Regions from separate parts of the Homo sapiens genome. Here region 1 is linked to region 2. The links come from fine-mapping of genetic effects on gene expression. Tissue or cell type: whole blood. Region 2 holds a variant in brackets; the other region holds the start of a gene. All regions are shown on one strand. Distances are between the middles of the regions.

Region 1 (4,000 bases), 35 kb after region 2:
GTAGAGAAGTGAGAGATCAAGAGATCGGTTCAGTCCGGGGGGATCCCTCCCCCACCCCTCCCAACAACACACACCTTCGCCAAGATGTTCAACGAGAGTTGAGGACTTATCCCATCCTCTGGTTAAAGGTTTGGCTCCCTACTGCCTCCCTGAGCAGGGCCCCCCGCCTGGAGAGCCCAATACCCAAGATTCCAGAGTTAGAGATGGAATATGACCCAACAGGGAAAGTGAAGCTCAGGGAACGGCGGCCCTGGTCCAAAGTCTGGCGTACAAGAAGGGCGCGCACCTCTGCAGGATCCCGGGCGCGCGGAGTCGGCCAAGGGTGGCCGGGGGAGTGTGTCTGCTCCGCGCTCCCAGTCTGCGCTCCGGCTTCTCTGCAGAAGCTGCCGCCAGGCTTTCCTGCCACCCGCCCACGGCCCCGGAGCTCTGGGCACAGCAAGCCAAGCTCCGGGTTCCCGGCTCCTGGTTCCCGCGCAGAGTCGTTGCGGGGATGCTGGAAACGAGGTGTTTCCCGGCCCTACATTTTGCATATTCCATCCCCCCATCCTCCCAGACTTGCTGTGTGACCTTGAGCAAGTAGCTGACAGTCTCGGAGCCTCGATTCTCAGCCCGACCTTAGGGGTTACAGAGGAGACTTTGGTCACCTACCGCTGTTCCCCGGGCTCCCGCGCGCGCTGCTGGTGGCCTCTCCCTCCCGCCAGCTCTGGGGCCGCGGCAAGTCTGTGGCAGCTCGTCCGCTGGTCATCCTACCTCCCCGCCTCCCCGCAGTTCTTTTTCCCTTTCACTTTCTTTCTGCAGCGCTGAGCTCGGGCCAGGCTGTGGAGCAACCAAGCACCTACTGTGGCCACCACGTGCTTTATCAGAAGTGGCATCCCAACTGCCTGGGGCATCCAAGAGGTCCCTGCCTCCAGTCGGTTCCTCACAGTGGCCAGCCCCACTTCGGGGAGAGTCCCAGGCCCCGGGCCAGGAGCCAGGAGCTAGGGAGCCACTTGGGCAAGTGATCTGCAAGTCCTGAGTTGCAGGGAGCTTGTCCCCACCCCTGGGTGGGTCTCTGTTTCTCTCCAACTCAGTCCAACCGTGAAAGTGGCAAACCACCTCCGAGGGCACATGGCCCCTGAGATGAGCTAACTGAGCTATTCACTCCTCTGATGCTGGCCCTAGGGAGGAAGAGAAAATCCCTCAGGTACCTTCCATGGATGGAAAACCTGTGTTACCATGACCACACCCCCAGCCGTGGCAAGAGCCCTGCCGGTCCTTTTCAGAGGTCTTGGATTCCTGCTGGGTCCTCCAAGGCATGAGACTTTGAGGTGGTCACTTTCCCTTTTCAGGCCTGAATTTCCTCATCTGGAATTGAGGGAGGGGGCAAGGTTACCTCTGACTTCTCCCCCTCCAACACTTTCCCGTAGCAACTTAAGGCTGCACCCAACCACACCGGCAGACCTGTCATCAGTCTCTGGGTTCAAAGCAAACCATACATTTCAGGGGAGTCTGAGAAAAGGGATACCACCCCTTTAACCATCCAACAACAGCAATGCCAATAAAATTGAGCTCCTATGAGCTCAATTCCAGTTCCTATAAAATATTGGACACTGTGCTAGGTCCCTCATCATTACCCTTTCATACAGGCTTTCCCACAGGTCCATTGTACACTCCAGGAAAATTGACTCGAGAATGTAAACGACTTCTTCAGGGGCACACCCTTCCCAGCCAACGGTGTAGCTGCCATGCTGCCTTCAGAGCCGGTGCCAGGTGTCTGCACTGTGCTCTTCCCACCATCTGTTCCCCCGTCCCCTGACCCTTTTTAAACAACACCATTAGGAAACTGGGGGGAGGGCAGCATCCGCCAGCTCTCCCCAGCTGCTGAGGGCTCAACAGCTACACCTCAAGGCTGACTCCAATTTTGGTTTCCCTGCTTCTCTGGGTATGGAGTGGAGTCTGGCAGAGGTCCCGTCCTGCAGAGGCACCCCTCAGTATTTACCCAAAGGGAGGCGAGAAGACCTTGCTGTGGGCCGAGCCAGGCCAGCATGCTGAGAGTTAGTGACACACTGCCCGAAAGTCTGACTTCTAGAACCTTTCGGTGCTGATACATGGTTCATACTCCAGACACCTGGCTGACCTGAAGTCTCCCTCCGGTGGAAGGAAATAGACAACTCTTTCACATCTTCCAATGGCCTGCCCCAGCAGGACACAGACTCCTGTTCCCATCCTCACCCCCATCCCCAATTCAGAATGGTTTCTCTGTTTATCTGGAATGGCAGGACCAGCTGAGACTGCACGCTAAATTAAGATGCTTTCCCGGCCTTTTTACCTTGGGGCTCTGACAGGTAGGACCCAGCAGGGCGTGGAGCCAGGCAACGCATTGTGTAGGAATCCCAGCCAGGCAGCAGCTCCCGGAGTCTGGCAGCCCCTCCTCGTGCCCTCAGCTTCCCCAAGGATGCCTTCGGATGCCCAGCTCAGAAGCACACAGCCTCATCACTAGCCTCATCACTAACCAGTCACCAGTTGGGAGCCCGCCAAGCTAAGCCAACATGCAAAGAAACAAGTGAGGGATCATCAAAAAAACTCTCCCTGCAAGGTGGCCCCAAGCGGTCAGATTTCTGTTTCTGAACACCCTCTAATTTTACCACACTCCCTTAAGCCCTCCCCACACCTCTGAAATTAATTTCACTTCCTTACTGTGGACTGAATTTGGTGAAGACAGAAAGTTGCACAGAAAGTCTGTTGGGGGAACCTTCAACAGTCTGACGTTCAGAAATGATGATCACAATGGAACCGCACTGGTGCCAGCTGCCAATATCTGCCACCTTCTGCAGGATGGGGCCAGTATCATAGCCCTCCGCCCAGATGCCTCAAGACAAGCTGAGAGCCTCTGCTGGGGACTTCTTAGATGCTGCTCTCCTCTACCATGCCTACTCCCACACCAAATTGCCCTGAATTTCTCTGGAGATCATAAGTGGCCCACCTGTCATTTTCATCCCAAGACATTGGACTAAAACATAAATTATACCAAAAGAGTGTTAACCCAAATATGGTACCCTTGTAGTCAGATGGTTTGGGGTGACCCGCCAAAGTGATGCTAAATAATACTGACTCCCATAGGGAGAAAGTTAGTGTCTTTTCCAGTCTCTGCCCATCCTCCTGGTGGTATCAAGGAGGAAGTCTCAGCTTGGTGTGAACATGTCTTTAACACCTCTTCTAATATATGATCACTCTGTTTTATAGAAAGCAGCTCTCTAGCCTCAGAGCCTTCTACAGTCAACAGTATCTTGCTATAATCTAACATCACTCTGCTTTCTTGTTAAATGGTTACCTCCTGTTTTTGCCATTTTTTCCCTTTATAATGGGACGTAAAGTTTTATTTGAATATAAAGTAGATGGCTGGGCCAGGTGGCTTGTGCCTGTAATTCCAACATTTTGGGAGGCCGAAGCAGGAGGATTGCTTGAAGCCGGGAGTTGGAGGCTAGCCTGGGCAACATAGTGACACCCTATGTCTACAAATTGTTGGGGTTTTTTTTGTTTGTTTTTGTTTTTTTTTAGACGGAGTTTCACTCTTATTGCCAGGCTAGAGTGCAATGGCATGATCTTGGCTCGCTGCAACCTCCGCCTCCCGGGTTCTGGGTTCAACTGATTCTCCTGCCTCAGCCTCCCGAGCAGCTGGGATTACAGGCACCTGCCACTATGTCCAGCTAATTTTTCTTTTCTTTTCTTTTTTTCTTTTTTTGAGACGGAGTCGCGCTCTTTCGCCCAGGCTGGACTGCAGTGGCGCTATCTTGGCTCACTGCAAGCTCCGCCTCCTGGGTTCACGCCATTCTCCTACATCCAGCTAATTTTTCTACAAATGATTTTTTAAAAATTAGCCATGTATGATGGTGCACAACTATAGTCCCAGCTACTCTGGAGGCTGAAGTGGGAGGATCGAGTGTGCCCAGGAGTTGGAGGCTGCAGTGAGCTATGATCATGAAATACACTCCAGCCTGGGCAACAGAGTGAGATCCTGCCT
Region 2 (4,000 bases):
AGCCAGGGGCATGCTAGGCCCTTCCCTCGGCCTAGATCTCATTTACTCCTCAAGACTCTGAGCTATGGGCTCTTATCTCCATTTTACATATAGGGAAACTGAGGCACTAGGCGATCAAATAGCTCACACAGGGTCACACAGCCTGGATCAACATTTAGAGCAGACTTCAAGGGGATGAGAAAAATAAGGACAACGAAGGGCCGTTTAGTTTAAAAATATGGTTAAATGCATTCCATATAAAGAGCTGTCTTTTATTCTGCAATTATGTCCTTTGAACTTTTTCAATATTAGAATGATCATTCTTTGGTAAAATTATGGTGCCAGCAGTGGGTATTTTGTTGTTATTTGTTTGTTTGAATGAGCATCCTTGATAAACATTAAAAAACAGTAACCGCGCACGGTCACTCGAATTCATTCCGAAATGTTCTCGGCCTCTGAAATCCTGAAGTCTGAGAACACTGGCCTCAGCAAAAGGCCACAGGATCAGAGTTTGACTCCAGGATCTGGCATTTGGCTCCCTGCTAAAGGCCTTGGCAAATCCCTTCACCCTTAAGTCTTGATCTCCTCAAATATTTCACCCCAATCTTATGGGGGTTCTTGGATTAAGGCATTCGTTGTTAAATATTGACCGCTTGCCTACTATGTGCCAGGCCCAGGGAGGAAAGTTGTGGGCCAAACAGACGAAAATCCCTGCCTTCTGGGTGCTGACATTCCAGGGGGGAAGATAGACAGATAATCAAAGAAATCGGAAAGCAAGCTGATGTCTGAGACAATGAATCATATGGAAATATACAGTGGTGAGGGGGATGGAGTTTTTTTTTTAACCATGAGGGGAATGGAGTTCTATTTATTTATTTATTTATTTATTTTTGAGATGGGGTCTCACTCTGTCATCCAAGCTGGACTGCAGTGGCGTGATCTCAGCTCACCGCAACCTCCGCCTCCCGGTTTCAAATGATTCTCCTGCCTCAGCCTCCCAAGTAGCTGTGACTACAGGCACCTGCCACCATGCCCAGCTAATTTGTTTTGTATATTTAGTAGAGATGGGGTTTCACTATGTTGGCCAGGCTGGTCTCAAACTCCTGGCCTTGTGATCCACCTGCCTCGGCCTCCCAAAGTGCTGGGATTACAGGCATAAGCCACTGCGCCTGGCCAGAGTTTTATTTTTAACTGTGAGGGTCAGAAAAGACCTCACTGAGGCCGGGTGTGGTGGCTCACGCCTGTAATCCCAGCACTTTGGGAGGCCGAGGTGGGGGGATCACGAGGTCAGAAGATTGAGACCATCCTGGCTAACACGGTGAAACCCCGTCTCTACTAAAAATACAAAAAATTAGCCAGATGTGGTGACATGTGCCTGTAGTCCCAGCTACTCGGGAGGCTGAGGCAAGAGAATCACTTGGACTTGGGAGGAGGAGGTTGCAGTGAGTCGAGATTGTGCCACTGCACTCCAGCCTGGGTGACAGAGCGAGACTCCACCTCAAAAAAAGAAAAAGAAAAAAGGAAAAAGAAAGAAAGAAAGGGAAAGAAAGAAAGAAAGGAGGGAAAGAAAGAAAGAAAGAAACAGGGAAAGAAAGAAAAGAAAAGGCCTCACTGAGTAAAGACCAGAGGAGGTGAAGGCATGAGCCATGCAGATATCTGGGGAGAAGTATTCCAGGCAGAGGGCACAGCCGGTGCAAAGGCCTGGAGGCAGAAGCATGCCTAGGAGGTTGAAAGCCAGCAAGGAGGCCCTGTGGCTGGAATGGAGAGAGCACCCAGCGAGTGTAGGAGATAAGGGTGAACAGGTGAGTGGGGACTGAACTGGGGAAGGACTCTGTGTACAAACGAAGTCCCTGTAGGGTTGTGAGTGGCTAAGAACCCTGATTTGACAGACAGATGAGGTCTACAGGGTGCCTGGGCACAGTAGAAGCCTGAGAAAATGCCAGAAATAGTCTTTTCCTTCCTTCCTTCCTTCCTCAGAACCTCCTCGGGGGCTTCCGGTCTCCAGGTGGCTGATCACCCGGCTCTAGGCTGTTCCACCCCATGGCCGCTGTTCCCCAGAGCGCAGTTCCGATCTTGAACTAGGGGCTTTTTCAGCTGAAAATAATTTAAGGCCAGAAAGGGCCCTCAGTTATTGTTTTCAGACATT[T/C]CCCCTTTTCAGCATCATTTTTACCTCTGGACAAATTTAGCACCTTGTCTCTGTTCAAAACAAGAGACACTGGCTTTTTTCTGGGGCACAGGGGAGCAGTGATCAGGGAGAGCTGATAGCTTGTGGGTGACCAGCTGGGGGACCACGGGCAAGTCACTTAACCTCACCAGGCCTCCGTCTCCTCATCTGTAAAATGGGGAAGATGATGACTGTCTGTCTTCCACAGTAGCTCTTGAGATTAATGAGATTATATATAAAATGCACTGAATTATAAGCTGGGCATGGTGGCTTACACCTGTAATCCCAGCACTTTGGGAGGCTGAGGTGGGAGGAACATCTGAGGCCAGGAGTTCAAGACCAGCCTGGCCAACATGGTTAAAGCCCGTCTCTACTAAAAATACAAAAATTAGCCAGGTGTAGTGGTGTACACCTGTAATCCCAGCTACTCGGGAGGCTGAGGCAGGAAAATTGCTTGAACCGAGAGGTGGAGATTGCAGTGAGCCAAGATCATACCACTGCATTCTAGCCTGGGTGACAGAGCAAGACCCCATCTCCAAAAAAAAACAGCACCGAATATACCACAGGCATAACAACTCCTTCCTAATCATTAGATGATCTAGACCCCTACCAAGGAACAAACATTCATTTAGCTTTTTCTGTGGAAGGAGCTTAGGGCCAGGCTGACCTGACCTTTATGACTTTGGATAAACAATTTAAAGTCTCTTGTTCTCAGCATTGCCATTTGTACAATGGGGAGATGATGACAATGCCTGTAGAGGAGGGTGGCCTGAGATAATTGAGATGGAAGGTGAGCTGCAAATTTAAAAGCCTGTTCTGGCCAGGTGCGGGAGCTCGCACCTGTAATCCTAGCACTTTGGGAGGCTGAGGTGGGAGGATTGCTTGAGCCCAGGAGCTCGAGACCAGACTGGGCAACATGGTGAAATCCTGTCTCTACAAAAAATACAAAAATTAGTCAGGTGGGGCATGCCTGTAGTCCCAGCTACTAGGGAGGCTGAGGTGGGAGGATCACTTGAGCCTAGGGAGGTTGAGGCTGTGGTGAGCTGTGATTGTGCCACTGAACTCCAGCCTGAGGGACAGAGTAAGACTCTGCCTCAAGAAAGAAAAGAAAAGGAAAGAAAAGGAAAGGAAAAAGAAGGAAGGAAGAGAAGGAAGGGAGGGAAGGAAAGAGAAAGAAAGAGAATGGAAAGAAAGAAAGAGAAAGGAGAGAAAGGAAAGAAAGAAAAGAAGGAAAGAAAGAAAGAAAGAGAGAGATAGGGAGGGAGGAAGGAAGGGAGAGAGAGAGAGAAAGAAAGAAAGAAACAGAGAGAAAGAAAAAGAAGAAAAGGGGGAAGAAGGGAGGGAGGGAAGGAAGGAAGGAGGGAGGGAGGGAAGGAAAGAAAAGGAAGGGAAAGGAAAGAAAGAGGAAAGAAAGAGAGAAAGAAAGAAAGAAGAAAGAAAGAAAAAGAAAGAGAGAAGAAAGGAAAGAAAGAAAGAAAAGCTATATTCTGACAGATCTAAATATAATAATTATTGTGCTTTCTTGGGGCCCATGTATGGTGGGCTGCCCCTCCTCAGTGACCCAGACACAACTGGACTCCCTAGAGCCTTGCCTAGGTCTCCATTTCTGTCACCCCAGCAACACTGCCTAGGGTGTGGCCCCCAGCCCTGGCCACACATAGAGCAACCAACTGTCCCAGTTTGCCTGGGACTAAGGGGCTTCTTGGGATGCAAGACTTTCAGTTTTCAAACCAGGATAGTCCCAGGCAAGTAGGGTTGCTTTTTCATCCTAGCTGCACATCAAAAGCTCCTGGGAATTTCAAAATGGGGGAAAGATTCTCCCTGGGGAGGCCATCCCTTGGCTGTGGAAGTAAACAA

Evidence for each region. PIP is the estimated chance that this variant, and not a neighbour inherited with it, causes the effect.
Region 1: CIITA starts here. The variant in region 2 is fine-mapped to the expression of CIITA in whole blood (TOPMed, PIP above 0.99).

Annotation. Positions count from the first base shown.
Region 1 is chr16:10,875,691-10,879,690 of GRCh38, reverse strand. It overlaps CIITA (class II major histocompatibility complex transactivator), which reads right to left and starts at 2,489. Exons shown (of 20, transcript NM_000246.4): 1 at 2,309-2,489. The coding sequence starts at 2,360. RefSeq lists enhancers at 516-635, 716-765, 2,186-2,235, 2,276-2,355, 2,396-2,465 and 1 more.
Region 2 is chr16:10,910,812-10,914,811 of GRCh38, reverse strand. All of the region lies in intron 13 of CIITA (class II major histocompatibility complex transactivator), which reads right to left. Among named protein-coding and RNA genes, the nearest start is that of DEXI, 30 kb to the left of the region's middle. RefSeq lists an enhancer at 2,355-2,404. The variant T/C (reference allele first, on the strand shown) is at 2,126.